Linked DNA regions of Homo sapiens: regions 1 and 2 are each linked to region 3. Evidence: fine-mapped expression QTL. A gene starts in region 3. Each other region holds a variant in brackets. All regions are shown on one strand. Distances are between the middles of the regions. Region 1 has its middle 13 kb from the start of MIR4322. Region 2 overlaps DNMT1 (DNA methyltransferase 1). Region 3 holds the start of P2RY11 (purinergic receptor P2Y11).

Region 1 (5,219 bases), 110 kb before region 3:
CCACCTTGGCCTCCCAAAGTGCTGGGATTTCAGGCATGAACCCTTTGATGGGGGACCCTAGGCACCCAAGCTGGAGCCCCACACAGCAACACCAGCTCAAAGACTAGGACAGCCAGTGGGAGAGAAGGCAGACCGCAGAGGCTGAGGGCCTGCAACCCCCATCGGAATTCCCCTTCTCTAGCAGTTGAGACAACAACCTCTGTTTGGAAACCTGAACCCTAGATGGGATGGGGGGTGGGGTGGGGGAAAAAGGCACAGGCCAGGCTGGAGTCAATAGATTTTCCCCAAGTACCCACAGGGTTCTCTATCTCCCCCTTCAGGACTCTGCTCAAATGCCACCTCCTCAGAAAGGAGTCACTTGCTTATTACCTGGCAGTATATATTATTAAGTTGGTGCAAAAGTCATTGCGGTTTTTGCCATTACCTTTAATAGCAAAAATTGCAATGACTTTTGCTATTTCTTTTAATGGCAAAAACCGCAATGACTTTTTTTTTTTTTTGAGATGGAGTCTCGCTCTGTCACCCAGGCTAGAGTGTATGGCCCGATCTCGGCTCACTGCAAACTCCGCCTCCTGGGTTCACGCCATTCTCCTGCCTCAGCCTCCTGAGTAGCTGGGACTACTAGTGCCCGCCACCATACCAGGCTAATTTTTTGTATTTTTTTTTTTTAGTAGAGACAGGGTTTCACCGTGTTAGCCAGGATGGTCTCAATCTCCTGACCTTGTGATCCACCCACCTCGGCCCCCCAAAGTGCTGGGATTACAGGCGTGAGCTACCGTGCCCAGCCTACAATGACTTTTAATGGCAAAAACCGCAATGATTTTAGCACCAACCTAATATGTATCAATTTATCTGTCTCTACCCCCATTAAAATACAAGCACTGTGAATATAGGACTGCACCTGCCTTATTTACTAATGTATCTCCAGTGTTGTTTTTTTGTTTTTTTTTGAGACAAGGTCTTACTCTGTTACCCAGGCTCAAGTGCAGTGGTGCAATCACAGCTCACTACAGCCTCAACCTCCTGGGCTCATGGGCTCAGGTGATACTTCCACCTCAGGCTTCCTAGTAACTGGGATTATAAGCCTGCTAATTTTCTTTTTTTGTAGAGACATGATTCTTCCATGTTGCCCAGGCTGGTCTTGAACTCCTAGGCTTAAGAGATCTGCCTGCCTCAACCTCCCAAAGTGCTGAGATTACAGGTGTGAGCCAACTTGCCTGGCTATTTATGGCTCTCTAACTTTTTTTTTTTTTTTGATACAGGGTCTGACTCTGTCACCCAGGCTGGAGTGCAGTGACGTAATCACAGCTCACCGCAGCCTTGACCTCCTGGGCTCAAGCCATCCTCCCACCTCAATCTCCCAAGTAGGTGGAACTACAGGTATGTGCCAACACACTGGCCTGCTTTTTTGTATTGTTTGTAGAGACAGGGTTTCACCATGTTGCCCAGGCTGCTCTCAAACTCCTGGGCTCAGTGCTCCTCCCACCTCAGCCTCCCAAAGTGCTGGGATTACAGGCATGAGCCACCATGCCTGGCTATCTCTAACATCTTAAACACTACTTGGCATGTTCCCACCCCAGGGCCTTTGCACCTGCTGTTCCCTCTGCCTGGAATGCCTACACACAGTAGGTCCTCAGTAAATACTTGTTGAATAAATAAAACAAAAGCAAATGATGGTCATTTCAGTGAGTGTTAAGTGCTAGGAAGAAAATAAAATAGGGCCGGGCACGGTGGCTCATGCCTGTAATCCCACCACTTTGGGAGGCCGAGGTGGGCAGATCACCTGAGGTCAGGAGTTTTTTTGTTTTGTTTTGTTTTGTTTTTGAGACGGAGTCTTATTCTGATGCCCAGGCTGGAGTGCAATGATGTGATCTCGACTCACTACAACCTCCACCTCCTGAGTTCAAGTGATTCTCCTGCCTCAGCCTCCCGAGTAGCTGGCATTACAGGCATGTGCCACCAAGCCTGGCTAATTTTTGTATTTATAGTAGAGACGGGGGTTTCATCATGTTGGTCAGGCTGGTGTCGAACTCCTGGCCTCAAGTGATCTGCTTGCCTAGGCCTCCCAAAGTGCTGGGATTACAGGCGTGAGCCACTGTGCCCAGCCAAGGTCAAGAGTTTGAAACCAGCCTGGCCAGCATGGTGAAACCCTATCTCTACTAAAAATACAAAATTAGGCCATGTGCCTAATTTTGGGATTACACCTGGGATCATGCCTGCAATCCCAGCACTTTGGGAGGCCAAGACGGGTGGATCATGAAGTCAGGAGTTCAAGACCAGCCTGGCCAACATGGTGAAACCCTGTCTCTACTAAAAATACAAAAGCTAGCTGGGCGTGGTGGCACGCACCTGTAGTCGCAGCTACTAGGGAGGCTGAGGCAGGAGAATTCTTGAACCCGGGGGATGGAGGTTGCAGTGAGCCGAGATTGCGCCACTGCACTCCAGCCTGGGCAACAGAGTGAGACTCTGTCTCAAAAAAAAAAATTAGCTGGGCGTGGTGGCGAGCGCCTGTAATCATAGCTACCGGGGAGGCTGAGGCTGGAGAATTGCTTGAACCCGGGAGGCAGAGGTTGCAGTGAGCCAAGATCGCGCCTTTGCACTCCAGCCTGGGCAACAGGAGCGAAACTGCATCTCAAAAAAAAAAAAAAGGGGGGGCGGCATTTGTCCCTGCGACAGAACTGCTGCCGCCATTGCCGTCTCTAATATCTAATATAATAATATCTAATATCTAATATAATAAGGTCTCACCACAGCCACCAGGCC[T/C]TGGGGAAGCCACAGTGTGGCCGACTGGCCAGTCAGACCCCCACCGGTGCTGCCTCCCAGCCCCTACAGATGGGGCTCTGCACCTACAAGATCAGGCAGTTCCTGGACTGTTCGACCACTGAGAATGACCTGTCCCTGTGTGAGGGCTTCAATGAGGCCCCAAAGCAGTGCAAGTACAACCATGGTCTGAGCTCCCTGCCTTGAAGACGTTGGTGCAGACTCGAGGGCCAGCTCTGCACCCACCTGTACCCCTTGCCCACAGCCAGACCACAACACCAGATTGTACCTGGATAGCTGGGATTGGAAGTGAGGAATAGGTTTCTCACCCCACAGATAACCCAAGACACAAATGTGCAATTAAAAAATTTATTTTAGACCACCAAAACAAACAAAACAAAACAGAAACAAATAAAAAAAAGAAAAGAAAATAGTGCCAGGTGTGGGAGCTCACTCCTGTAATCCCAGCACTTTGGAATGCCGAGGCGAGTGGATCACCTGAGGTCAGGAGTTTGAAACCAGCCTGGCCAGCATGGTGAAACCCCATCTCTACTAAAAATACAAAATTAAGCAGGCGTGGTGGTGGGCACCTGTAATCCCAGCTACTTGGGAGGCTGAGGCAGGAGAATGGCGTGAACCTGGGAGGCGGAGCTTGCAGTGAGCCGAGATCGCGCCACCGCACTCCAGCCTGGGTGATGGAGCAAGACTCTGTCTCAAAAAAAAAAAAAAAAAGGAAAGAAAAGAAAATAGGGCCAGGCATGGTGGCTCATGCCTGTAATCCCAGCCCTTTGGGAGACCAATGCGGGAGGATCACTTGGGGCCAGGAGTTTGAGATGAGCCTGGGCAACATAGTGAGACCTCATCTGTAAAAGTAAGTAAATAAATACATATATACCCTGGTGTGGTGGAACGTGTCTATAGTCCTGGCCACTCTGGAGGCTGAGGTGGGAGGATTCTTTGAGCCTAGGTGACCGAGGCTGCAATGAACTGTGGTCATGCCACTGCATTCCAGCCTGGGCAACAGAGTGAGACCCTGTCTCAAAAAATAAAAAGTCTAATGTGTGCTCGTGTGCTGGGCACTGTGAGAATCATTTGACATCTGCAAACTTCTGGAATCCTCACAATAATCCTATAGAGTAGGTGCTATTATTGGCTTTTTGACAGATAAAGAAACCGAGGCACAGAGAGGTTAAGTAATTCACCCAAGGTCAAGTAGCATGGGAGTCAAGGGGCCAGGATTGGAACCCAGTGAGTCACTGAAGACCACACTTATATCTTTTTAAAATGTTTTTCAGCTGGGCGCGGTGGCTCACGTCTGTAATCCCAGCACTTTGGGAGGCCGAGGCGGGCGGATCACCTGAGGTTGGGAGTTCAAGACCATCCTGACCAACATAGAGAAATCCTGTCTTTACTAAAAATACAAAATTAGCCGGGTGTGGTGGCACATGCCTGTAATCCCAGCTACTCGGGAGGCTGAGGCAGGAGAATTGCCTGAACCCAGGAGGCAGAGGTTGTGGTAAGCCGGAGATCGCACCATTGCACTCCAGCCTGGGCAAGAAGAGCGAAACCCCGTCTCAAAAAAATGATTATTTATTTATTTATTTTTGGAGATAGAGTCTCACTCTATCGCCCAGGCTGGAGTGCAGTGGCACAGTCTCGGCTCACTGCAACCTCCACCTCCCAGGTTCGAGAGTTTCTTCCGCCTCAGCTTCTCTAGTAGCGGTGATTACAGGCACGCACCACCACGCCTAGCTAATTTTTTTTTTTTTGAGACAGAGTTTCTCTCTTGTCACCCAGGCTGGAGTGCAATGGCGCAGTCTTGGCTCACTGCAACCTCTGCCTCCCAGGTTCAAGCGCTTCTCCCGCCTCAGCCTTCCAAGTAGCTGGGATTACAGGCGTGCACCATCATACCCAGCTAATTTTTTTGAGATGGAGTCTTGCACTGTCGCCCAGGCTGTAGTGCAATGGTGCGATCTCGGCTCACTGCAACCTCCGCCTCCCAGGTTCAAGAGATTCTCCTTGCCTCAGCCTCTCAAGTAGCTGGGATGACAGGTGCCCGCCACCATGCCTGGCTAATTTTTTTGTATTTTTAGTAGAGACAGGGTTTCACCATGTTAGCCAGGCTGGTCTTGAACTCCTGACCTCATGATCCACCCACCTTGGCCTCCCAAAGTGCTGGGATTACAGGCATGAGCCACTGCGCCGGGCCCACAATCATATCTGATCCTCCTCAATATCTGGATCTGAAGATCCCATTTGTTGATAGCTCTCAAATCTTGGAGCCCAAATTAAAGTGGTCCTTCCAGCAGGAAACACAAGATGACTTTCACCTCCTTTTTCCCCTAGGGAGGCTGTTGCCTAATAGGGACCAACAAAGGAATGACCTGGAAGAACCTGCTTAAATGCAAATTCTCAAGCTCTATGGTCAGAGATTCTGACTAAACAGGTCTGGAATGAAC
Region 2 (5,219 bases), 62 kb before region 3:
GAGACTGACTTTTTTTTTTTTTTGATACGGAGTCTTGCTCTGTAGCCCAGGCTGGAGTGCAGTGGCATGATTTCGGCTCACTGCAACCTCCACCTCCCAGGTTCAAGCGATTCTCCTGCCTCAGCCTCCTGAGTAGCTGGGATTACAAGTGCCCGCCACAACCCCTGGCTAATGTTTGTATTTTTGGTAGAGACAGGGTTTTACCACGTTGGCCAGGCTGGTCTGAAACTCCTGAACTCAGGTGATCCTCATGCCTTGGACTCCCAAAGTGCTGGGATTATAGGCGTGAGCCACTGCACCTGGTCTGAGGCTGACTTTATGGATGGTGCTGTGTCCCTCCATCAGAAAGGTGTGTGAGGTCTCTTCTCTGACACTAGCAGCTGTTGATCGGTGTTTAGACCCGTGATTTCTTAGGACTTACAAGATGGCAAGACAACATTCTAAACCCGTCATTCAGAGAAACATTAAACTTGAAGCCTCTTTCAACATCCTGGTGAATGAGGGTCCACTTCAGGCCAGCTGGAGGCCTAGGGTCTTGTTCCACTAATGGTTGGCCTCACTGTGTGTGACAGCCCTGCCAAACGGAAACCTCAGGAAGAGTCTGAAAGAGCCAAATCGGATGAGTCCATCAAGGAAGAAGACAAAGACCAGGTAGGGCCAGTGCTTTCATTTCCTGACTCTACCTTAACTTGGTGTATTTGATGATTGTGACTTCATATGTGTTCTGTCCAAGTAAATAAAAACCCTGTCTAGGGCTCTATTTAGGGCTCTCCAGAGAGACAGGACCAATAGAATGTATATGTGTGTATACAGCTATAGGTACATATATACATATGCACGTGTATGTATATATATATAATTCGTTTGATTTTTTTCTTGTTTTTATGGGTACATAGTTGGAATATATATTTATGGGGAGAGACTTTATTTTGAGAAATTGGCTCACAAGATTGTGAAAGCCAGCAAATTTGAAATCTGCAGGGCAGGCTGGAGGTCCAGGGGAGAAATGATGTCATAGCTCAAGTGGCAAGGCAGTCTTACATACATACATGTTATATATATGTGTGTGTGTGTGTGTGTGTGTGTGTGTGTGTGTGTGTGTGTGTATGTATGTATGTATTTAGACTTCTTTTTTTGAGACTTTTTTTTTTTTTTGAGACAGGGTTTTGCTCTTGTGGCACAATCTTGGTTCATTGCAACCTCAGCCTCCCGGGTTCAAGTGATTCTCCTGCTTCAGCCTCCCGAGTAGCTGGGACTACAGGCGCGTGCCACCACGCCCGGCTAATTTTTGTATTTTAGTAGGGATGGGGTTTCACCATGTTGCCCAGGCTGGTCTCCCATGTTGCCCAGGCTGGTCTCGAACTCCTTGAGCTTAGGCAATCTGCCCGCCTCAGCCTCCCAAAGTGCCAGGATTATAGGTGTGAGCCACCGTGCCCAGCCAATTTGTTTTTTTTGTTGTTGTTGTTGTTGTTTTTAATTTTTTTTAGATGGAGTCTCACTCTTTCACTCAGGATGGAGTGCAGTGGCACGATCTCAGCTCACTGCAACCTCCGCCTCCTGGGTTCAAGTGACTCTCCATCCTCAGCTTCCTGAGTAGCTGAGACTACAAGGCATGTGCCATCATACCCAGCTAATTTTTATATTTTTAGTAGAGATGGGATTTCACTGTGTTGGCCAGGCTGGTCTTGAACTCCTGACCTCAAGTGATCCACCCGCTTCAGCCTCCCAAAGTGTTGGGATTACAGTTCTGTCTTTTTTCTTTTCTTTTCTTTTCTTTGAGACAGGTCTCATTCTGTCACCAGGCTGGGGTGCAGTGGCGCAGTCATGGCTCACTGCAGCCTCAACCTCCTGGGCTTAAGCGATCCTCCCACCTCACCCTCCCAAGCAGCTGGGACTACAGGCGCATGCCAATGAGCTAAGTTTTGTATTTTTTGTAGAGATGAGGTTTCCCATGTTGCCCAGACTGGTCTCTAACAAATAAATTAAACAAATTCCTGACACAAGATGGAGAATCTTTGATTCTTTTACATAGTATCACCAGGCGATCTCTAGTGATGGGCAGTGTGCCTGCCTACTTCTCGGACCTGCTTTTGTTTTGGGGTTGGTGGGGATTAATACCAGAGTAAGAGTTTCTCAGATCTTCTCCCCAAAACCCAGGCCCCTTCTTTTCCCACTCTTGCTCTAACCATGTCAAATGTGTTAATATTTCAACTCACACTTTTGGTGTTGACCTTCCCTTGAAACCAGTATTCTAATCTTTTTTGTTCTTCCTTCCCTCCACACAGGATGAGAAGAGACGTAGAGTTACATCCAGAGAACGGTAAGAATAGTTACTATACCTTTCTTTTTGTTCTACGAGTTGTGTAATCTTGATCACAAAACTTTTTCAGAAAGTTTAAGGCCGGGCACGGTGACTCATGCCTGTAATCTCAGCACTTTGGGAGGCCAAGATGGGCGAATCACTTGAGGTCAGGAGTTCAAGACCAGCCTGACCAACATGGCGAAACCCCGTCTCTACTAAAAATTCAAAACTTA[G/A]CTGGGCGTGGTGGAATGTGCCTTTAATCCCAGCTACTCAGGAGGCTGAGTCAGAAGGATTGCTTGAACCCAGGAGGTAGAGGCTGCAGTGATCTGAGATCATTCCACTGCACTCCAGCCTGAGTGACAGAGCAAGACTCCATCTCAAAAAAAAAAAAAAAAGTTTAAAAAGAAGAACTTTATCGTGTGTTTCCATGGCAACCATATCGTTATGAAGTATCTGAATTTGGGGTCAGATCATTAGCGTTTAGATTCAAGTAGAATTCTCCTGTTTTCTTGGAAGGAATGAATCGAGGGCAGCTGGCATTCGAACCAGGTGTAAAAGTCATATCAAATACTAAATGTTAAATGAGTATGTGTCTGTCAGGGCTCCTGAGATAATGAAGATTGCTTTTGGGGGAAAGAGGAGCTTTATGAAAACTGCTTCTTTGGGGAAGCTCCTGGCACTCACACTTGGGGTCTGTGTTATTTTGCTTGACAGAGTTGCTAGACCGCTTCCTGCAGAAGAACCTGAAAGAGCAAAATCAGGAACGCGCACTGAAAAGGAAGAAGAAAGAGATGAAAAAGTAAAGCTCTATCACCTCTAAGTTTGTTAATTCTCCCTTAATCCTATATGGTCCCAATTTCCTTCCAGGACGTGGGGACAGGGGGTGGGGAACGTGGAAGAACAAGATGGGTTTTGCTAGTGATCGAAATGCCTTTGACTTTGGCTAAACACCTTTCAAACTTGTTTTCTCGTGGTCTCTACATGAAAGGTGGGTTATGAGATTGTGATAGTGAGGACCCTTGCTACTTATTTGTGATATTTTATTTTATTTTATTTATTTATTTATTTTTGAGACAGTCTCCCACTCTGTCACCCAGGCTGGAATGAGTACAGAGGTGCGATCTCGGCTCGTTGCAACCTCTGCCTCCCAGGTTCAAGTGATTCTCATGTCCCAGCCTCTTGAGTCACTGGGACTACAGGCGCCCGCCGCCATACTCGGCTAATTTTAGTGGAGATGGGGTTTCACTGTGTTGGCCAGGCTGATCTTGAACTCCTGACCTCGAGTGATCCACCTGCCTCAGCCACCAAAGTGCTAGGATTACAGGCATGAGCCACCACACCGGCCAACCTATGCCACTTAATCAACTAGTCACAGAGCTTCAGTTTGTCACCTCGCCTTCTTGCTTCTCTGGCTGATGAGATCTTTGTGAAGATCTAATTTTCAGACGTACGAGGTGCTAAAACTTTTTTTTTTTTTTTTTTTGAGATGGAGTCTTGCTCTGTTGCCCAGGCTGGAATGCAGTGGTGTGATCTTGTCTCACCGCAACCTCTGCCTCCCGGGTTCTTGTGCCTCAGCCTCCTGAGTAGCTGGGATTACAGGTGCCTGCCACCACAGCCAGATAATTTTGTATTTTTAGTAAAGATGGGGTTTCTCCATGTTGATCAGGCTGGTCTTGAACTCCCAATCTCAGGTGATCCACCTGCCTTGGCCTCCCAAAGTGCTGGGATTATAGGCGTGAGCCACCACACCCGGCCTAAAATACTTTTCAAACTTATTTTTTTGTAGTTCTCTACATGGAAGGTGGGTTATGAGGTTGTCATAGCGAGGATCTTTGCTACTTATTTGTGGTATTTATTTAATTTAATTTAATTTTTTTTTTTTGAGACAGTCTCCCGCTCTATCACCCAGGCTGGAGTGCAGAGGTGCGATCTTGGCTCATTGCAACCTCCGCCTCCCAGGTTCAAGTAATTCTCATGTCCCAGCCTCCCAACTAGCTGGGGCTACAGGCGCCTGCCACCACACCTGGCTAATTTTTGTGTTTTTATTTATTTATTTATTTATTTATTTATTTATTTATTTATTTGAGACGGAGTCTCGCTCTGTCGCCCAGGCTGAAGTGCAGTGGCTTGATCTCCGCTCACTGCAAGCTCCACCTCCTGGGTTCACACCATTCTCCTGCCTCAGCCTCCCGAGTAGCTGGGACCACAGGCGCCTGCCACCATGCCCGGCTAATTTTTTGTATTTTTAGTAGAGAAGGGGTTTCACCACGTTAGCCAGGATGGTCTTGATCTCCTGACCTCGTGATCCTCCCATCTCGGCCTCCCAAAGTGCTGGGATTACAGGCGTGAACCACCGCGCCTAGCCAATTTTTGTGTTTTTAGTAGAGACGGGGTTTCACCATGTTGGCCAGGCTGGTCTCAAACTGCTGACCTCGAACGGTCCACCTGCCTCAGCCATCAAAGTGCTGGGATTACAGGCACGAGCCACCACACCGGCCAACCTATGCTACTTAAATCAACTAGTCAGTTTCAGTCTGTCACCTCAGCCACCTTCTCTGGCTGACGAGATCTTGGTGAAGATCTAATTTTCAGATGTAGGAGGTGCTAAAATTCTTTAGCATCATCCAGACATAAAGTTGTATTCTCCTCTCTGAAGTCAGACCAGCTCTTTCCCCAGTCCCTCATCTTCTTTGTAAAATCTGAGTCTAAGGTTCTATGCAATACAGATGCTGGGTCCTGTTTTTTTTTCTGTTTGTTTTGTTTTTTAATAAGATGACTGAGGGCCGGGTGTGGTGGCTCATGCCTGTAATTCTAGCATTTTGGGAGGCCGAGGTGGGTGGATCGCTTGAGCTCAGGAGTTCAGGGCCAGCCTGGGCAATGTAGTGAGACCCCGTCTCTGCAAAAAATACAAAAATCA
Region 3 (5,219 bases):
GCTGGGCACTGCGGCCATGTAGAGTAGAGGGTGGACACAGAAGGCCAGGGGCATGAGGCCCCGCATCACCTGGTAGCCCACGTAGGGCCCCAGCTCCAGGGCTGCTGTGGCCTGGGCTATGTCTGCAAAGCTCGGGCAGCGGGTGCTCCAGCGCCGCCGAGCATCCACGTTGAGCACCCGCATGATGTGGTAGGGCACATAGGAGCTGGCGTAGAGGGCCACACCACTGGCCACCAACGCTGCCACACGCAGCTTCTCGGCCACAGTCATGCCTGGGCTGCGTAGCACGGCCCGCCCGAGGGCGCCGTAGGCTGCCAGCGTGAGCAGCAGCGGCAGGCCGCAGCCCAACCCCGCCAGCACCAGGCTATACGCTCTGTAGGCCGCCAGCCCGTGGTCTGCTGTCCCCAGACACTTGATGCAGGCCTCGGGCCTGGCCACGCTGCAGTTGCCCGCCCCCTGCTGCGGCCTCTTCAGGTGGGAGAAGCTGAGTGTGGGCATGGCCAGCAGGGCGGCCAGGACCCAGCCGGCAGCGCTCACGGCCCAGGCGTGCTTGGGTCGCAGGTGGCTTCGGGCGAAGAAGGGGTGCACGATGCCCAGGTAGCGGTTGAGGCTGATGCAGGTGATGAAGATGACGCTGCCCAGCAGGTTGCAGGTGAAGAGGAAGCGCTCCAGGCGGCACGCGGCCTCCCCATAGCGCCAGTGCTTGGGGGGATAGAGGTAGGCGGCCAGCGGGGGCAGCGTCAGGGCGCAGAGCAGGTCGCTGACTGCCAGCTGGACAGAGAAGACCACGGCGGGGTGCCATGGGCGCTGCTTCCGGATGCTGAAGCGGTACAGGGCCAGGCCATTGCTGGCCACGGCCACCAGGAACTCAACCACCAGTATGGGCCACAGGAAGTCCCCCTGGAACCCACTGAGTTTGTCGTCGGCAGCTGCCAAGAAGTTGGCAGGGCAGGACTTGGCACCTGTGGGCAGAAGGTGTCACCAGCTGAGCCCTATTCCCCCATAAGGCGGCTCCTGCTACCCCAAGAGCCCACGTCTGCCATGGCGTGGATCCCTGGACACGAGTTCTTTCCCCTCCCTGGAGGGGGACCGGGCTCCACTCCTTTATGTGGACAGGATTGAGGCTCAGAGCCAGGGTTATGCATTGGGCCCCAATGGACCAGCTTAGGCGGGCCAGGCAGTCTTGGAGCTCAAGGTCCACTGGTAACACAGACAGCGGCCACCCTACTCCCCCACCACACCTGGCCCCACTAGAGGCCTCCTCCCCAAAGTCCAGCCCCAGCAAGGCCTGCCGGCTCCACTTCAGATCTGTGCCGTCCAAAGCCCCGTGGGGGTCCAGCCCCCACTCTGCCCTGACCTTGGCACCCGCCGCCGCCCAAAGCCTCTTCTCCCCGTGGCCACCAGAGAGCACCCGCGAGCGCTGGAGTCCTGCCCCATCCTTTTGCTTCCAGGTGCTCACACTTGGCCAGGGAGTTGCCGCCAAAAAGCCAGACTCACCCCACAAGGTCCCCCAAGAGCGCTCCCGCCCGCCATACCCCCCAGTGCCACCCTCTGTGCTCCGCGACTCACTCCCTCGCACCAGCCCACCCAGGCTTCCTGGCTGCTCTTGCAGACTTGTGCCTTGGTACCTTCGCACCCAGACTTTTTTTTTTGAGACAGAGTCTCACTCTCATCACCCAGGCTGGAGTGCAATGATGTGACTTCAGCTCACTGCAACCTCTGCCTCCCGGGTTCAAGTGATTCTCCTGCCTCAGCTTCCTGAGTATTTGGGACTACAGGCACCCACCACCACGCCTGGTTTAATTTTAAATTTTGCATTTTTAGTAGAGATGGGGTTTCCCCATGTTGGCCAAGAGGTCTCGAATTCCTGACCTCAGATCTGCCCGCCTCAGCCTCCCAAAGTGCTGAGATTACAAGTGTGAGCCACCGTGCCCAGCCACACCCAGACATTCTTGAGGCTCCTCTTCCCACGTCCGTGGTCCTGCCTGCGAGAGGCCCCAAGGCCACCCTAACCACTGTTGACAGCAGCCCTCGTGCCTCCACTCTCCCTTCCCTGCGTTATTTTCCCCCATACCCTGCGCCACCTGATGACGGTGAGAAAAATCTCCCTCCTTCGGGAGGATGGGGGGGCCTGCTTACCCATTACTGGTGCCAGTGCTCACCACAGTGCCCAGGGCACAGCAGCACAGGGGCACTCACTCCTTGTGCACCCCACCCCTGCCTCTGCAGGCTGGGGACAGGCTTCTCCGGAGGCGCCTCCCTGCTCCCAACGCCAGCCTGCTTAAGGAGGAAGTGTCGTCTAGACGTGGCTTTTTTTTGGAGACAGGATTTCACTGTCACCGAGGCTGAGGTGCAGTGGTGCAATCACAGCTCAGTGCAGTCTCGACCTCCTGGGGTCAAGTGATCCCCCTGCCTCAGCCTCCCGAGTAGCTGGAATCACAGGCTCGCATCACCACACCCAGCCTTGACCTAGGCTTTTTTTTTTTGAGATGGAGTTTCGCTCATTGCCCAAGCTGGAGTGCAATGGTGCAATCTCGGCTCATGGCAACCTCCGCCTCCCGGGTTTAAGTGATTCTCTTGTCTCAGCCTCCCGAGTAGCTGGGATTACAGGCATGTGCCACCAGGCCCAGCTAATTTTTTTATTTTTAGTAGAGACGGGGTTTCTCCTTGTTGGTCAGGGTGGTCTCGAACCCCTGACCTCGTGTTCCACCCCCCTCGACCTCCCAAAGTGCTGGGATTACAGGCGTGAGCCACCGTGCCCAGCCCCAGACCTAGGTGTTTTACCAATACCCACTACCCCCACCTCCTGACAATCTGCAGACCCCCAGAGACAGCCAACATGCCTTCTCCTTACCCGAGACGTTGGCTGCCATGCTCCCGTGCCGATCCTCAGCCTGTGTCTGCTACCCAGTTCCCCAGCCCCTCCCCCAGTCACCAGTGGCTTAGTGGGCCCTGCCCCAGCCCCATCCCCAGTTACTGGCCCAGCCAGCAGAGCAGGCCAGCGTGCCTTTCCACCCACGTTTCCTTCCTCATTGTGCCACAACCCTCCTGAGGTTCAAGCTCATCTGCTGAAAGTGTGACCTGTCTGCTTGCACGGCTCTTTGGTGGGACTGGGGGGAGGGGCCACTCATGGCTGCTGCTGCCACCAATGAAACCAACCCCGTGCAGGGTAGGGGAGAGACCCAGCTTCCAGGAAGAAACCAGGTGGGAGGGACTCTCGGGTGTGGCCGGCCCAGGACTCTCTGGGTTGCTTTGTATGGCTCCAGAATCCCCCATCCCAAACGCTGACGTGGACCCCTGGCCAATTCAGTTCTTTACTGGAGTGGAAGGGCTGGGGACACAACTCCTTTATGAAAGGAAACCGAGGGCCACATCTCGGGCCCCAATCTGGGGCGTTCAATCCAGCCGCTGCTCCGGTGCGGCTTGGGCTCAGGCCACTCTCTTCCCTGGGCGGCCCCGGCCCCGGCCTCGCCCACCATCCCGGGAAGCCCCTCTGGGCCCCCGCCTGGCCTGGGCTCCCTGGGACTTGTCCTTGGTCTTGGGAAACTTCTGGTCACAAAGGCGACCCCTGCCTCGATCCATTTCCCACCGCTTCCGCTTCCGCCCTGGAGACTTGGCAAGCCGTTTCTGCTTGGCCTCGGGGAACAGGTCTGTGGGGAGAGACAGTGTCAGGGCCCCCAGAGACAAGGACAGGCTCTGGGTGCCCTGCTGCAGACCCCACTCCATACCCTCACTGGGCGCCTCGCCCACCGCCTGGCAGAAATACTCGATGTCATCATCTTCCTGTTCATCATCGTCCTCACCCAACTCCAGGCTCGCCGTCCTTGAAGGGATCCCAGAGGCCTCTTCATCACTACCCCCGACCCGTGCCTTCTTCATGCCCTCCAGGCTCTTCTTTCTGGAGGAGGGCGTGGGGGTCAACATAGCCGCCCATCCCAGGGACCCCCCCTTGGCCCTGCCCTTCCCAGCTCTGCCTGGACCTGTGGGCCTCCCGCTGCTCCTGCTTGCGCTGCACATTCTGGGCCTGCTGGGCCTGCCTCTGCGCCTTCAGCCGCAGCTTCTTCTCCTTGGCTTCCAGGATGGCCTGCAGCTCCTCCTCCGTCTTGCTCACTGAGCCAAGAGACGCGGGTCACCAAGATCCGGGTGCAGCTCCACACCCATGACCCCCCACCCCCGGCGGCCCCGGCCTCACCAAAACTGTGGAACATCACTTTGCCCTCCCCGACGCCCTCCTGGACCTTGATGAGCTGCAGTGTCATCCGCGGGCCGATCTGAGGGGACGAGGAAGAAGCGTCAGCCCACCGTTGGGACTGGTGGAGCCCGGGGGTCCCCCTGCCCTGGGCCTCACCTCGGTGAGCCGCACTGCACTCTGCTGGGCCCGCATGTTGCCACGGCCAGCGACAGCCTGAGGCAGCTCTGTGATGTTGTGGTCGCCGTCAGGCTCTGCCTCGCTCTCCGACAGCCCCGCGCCCCTGTGTGTAGGACATAACAGGGCTCAGTGGGGGAGCTCAGGCTCCCGGTCCTGTTCTGGGGTCCCCGGGCCGCAGTGGCCTCCCGCCCTATGCCCTCCTCACGTGGCCAGCAGCTCGCTGATGTCCTGCAGGCGGCTCATGTTGGGGAACTTCTCCTGGAGCAGCTTCTTCATCCCGCGACTCGCGCCCACAGGAACAACTTTGATGCTACTGCAGGAACATGAGTGGACGGCAAGGGGGTGGTCAGGGGGCACGTGATGGGGCTGGCGGTGCCCATCTCACCCTTCCCACAGTGCGTCAGGGCGTTTACTTTGGACAGAGCAATCACAGCGTCTCAGCAGAAGTGCTGTCATCAGCCGCATGTGGAGGCCCCCACCCGGCACCCCCTCGTCTCCCATCCTGCTGGGACACTCACTAGTGGCGGAAGTCCAGCTCCTGGGAGTCGGGGTTGTAGTCGATGAGGAGGCAGCGCTTGATGGTGTTCAGGTTCACCTGGAAGGGGAGGAAGAGAGCATAGTCCAGTAGACTCATGGCAAAGTTTGGGGAAGTGGGGGCTTTGGGGGATACACACACTGTTCGTGGACTGTGGCACTGGCTAGAAATGCTGCTTCCAGCTCGCACCTGCAGTTTTAGCTACTCCAGAGGCTGAAGTGGTGGGACTGCCTGAGCCCAGGAGTTCAAAACCAGCCTGGGCAACACGGCGAGTCTCCATGTCTACAAAAAGTAGATGGAAAAATGAGTTGGATG

What was found.
Region 1: its variant is fine-mapped to the expression of P2RY11 in fibroblasts (GTEx, PIP 0.99).
Region 2: its variant is fine-mapped to the expression of P2RY11 in whole blood (TOPMed, PIP 0.94).

What each region holds. Positions count from the first base shown.
Region 1 is chr19:10,214,913-10,220,131 of GRCh38, reverse strand. It overlaps the pseudogene LOC103689916. Among named protein-coding and RNA genes, the nearest start is that of MIR4322, 13 kb to the left of the region's middle. RefSeq lists enhancers at 1-65, 16-245, 376-425, 66-566. The variant T/C (reference allele first, on the strand shown) is at 2,764.
Region 2 is chr19:10,170,972-10,176,190 of GRCh38, reverse strand. It overlaps DNMT1 (DNA methyltransferase 1), which reads left to right. Exons shown (of 41, transcript NM_001130823.3): 7 at 573-651; 8 at 2,286-2,320; 9 at 3,017-3,101. Among named protein-coding and RNA genes, the nearest start is that of DNMT1, 21 kb to the left of the region's middle. The variant G/A (reference allele first, on the strand shown) is at 2,536.
Region 3 is chr19:10,109,376-10,114,594 of GRCh38, reverse strand. P2RY11 (purinergic receptor P2Y11) reads right to left here and starts at 2,902. Exons shown (of 2, transcript NM_002566.5): 1 at 2,855-2,902; 2 at 1-962. The coding sequence starts at 2,873. It overlaps PPAN (peter pan homolog), which reads right to left. Exons shown (of 12, transcript NM_020230.7): 6 at 4,888-4,964; 7 at 4,575-4,682; 8 at 4,349-4,472; 9 at 4,193-4,271; 10 at 3,981-4,110; 11 at 3,729-3,898; 12 at 2,583-3,650. The coding sequence ends at 3,430. It overlaps PPAN-P2RY11 (PPAN-P2RY11 readthrough), which reads right to left. Exons shown (of 13, transcript NM_001198690.2): 6 at 4,888-4,964; 7 at 4,575-4,682; 8 at 4,349-4,472; 9 at 4,193-4,271; 10 at 3,981-4,110; 11 at 3,729-3,898; 12 at 3,511-3,650; 13 at 1-962. The coding sequence ends at 741. SNORD105B (small nucleolar RNA, C/D box 105B) reads right to left here and starts at 4,846; the gene lies at 4,755-4,846. RefSeq lists a silencer at 628-922 and enhancers at 1,083-1,152, 4,528-5,109.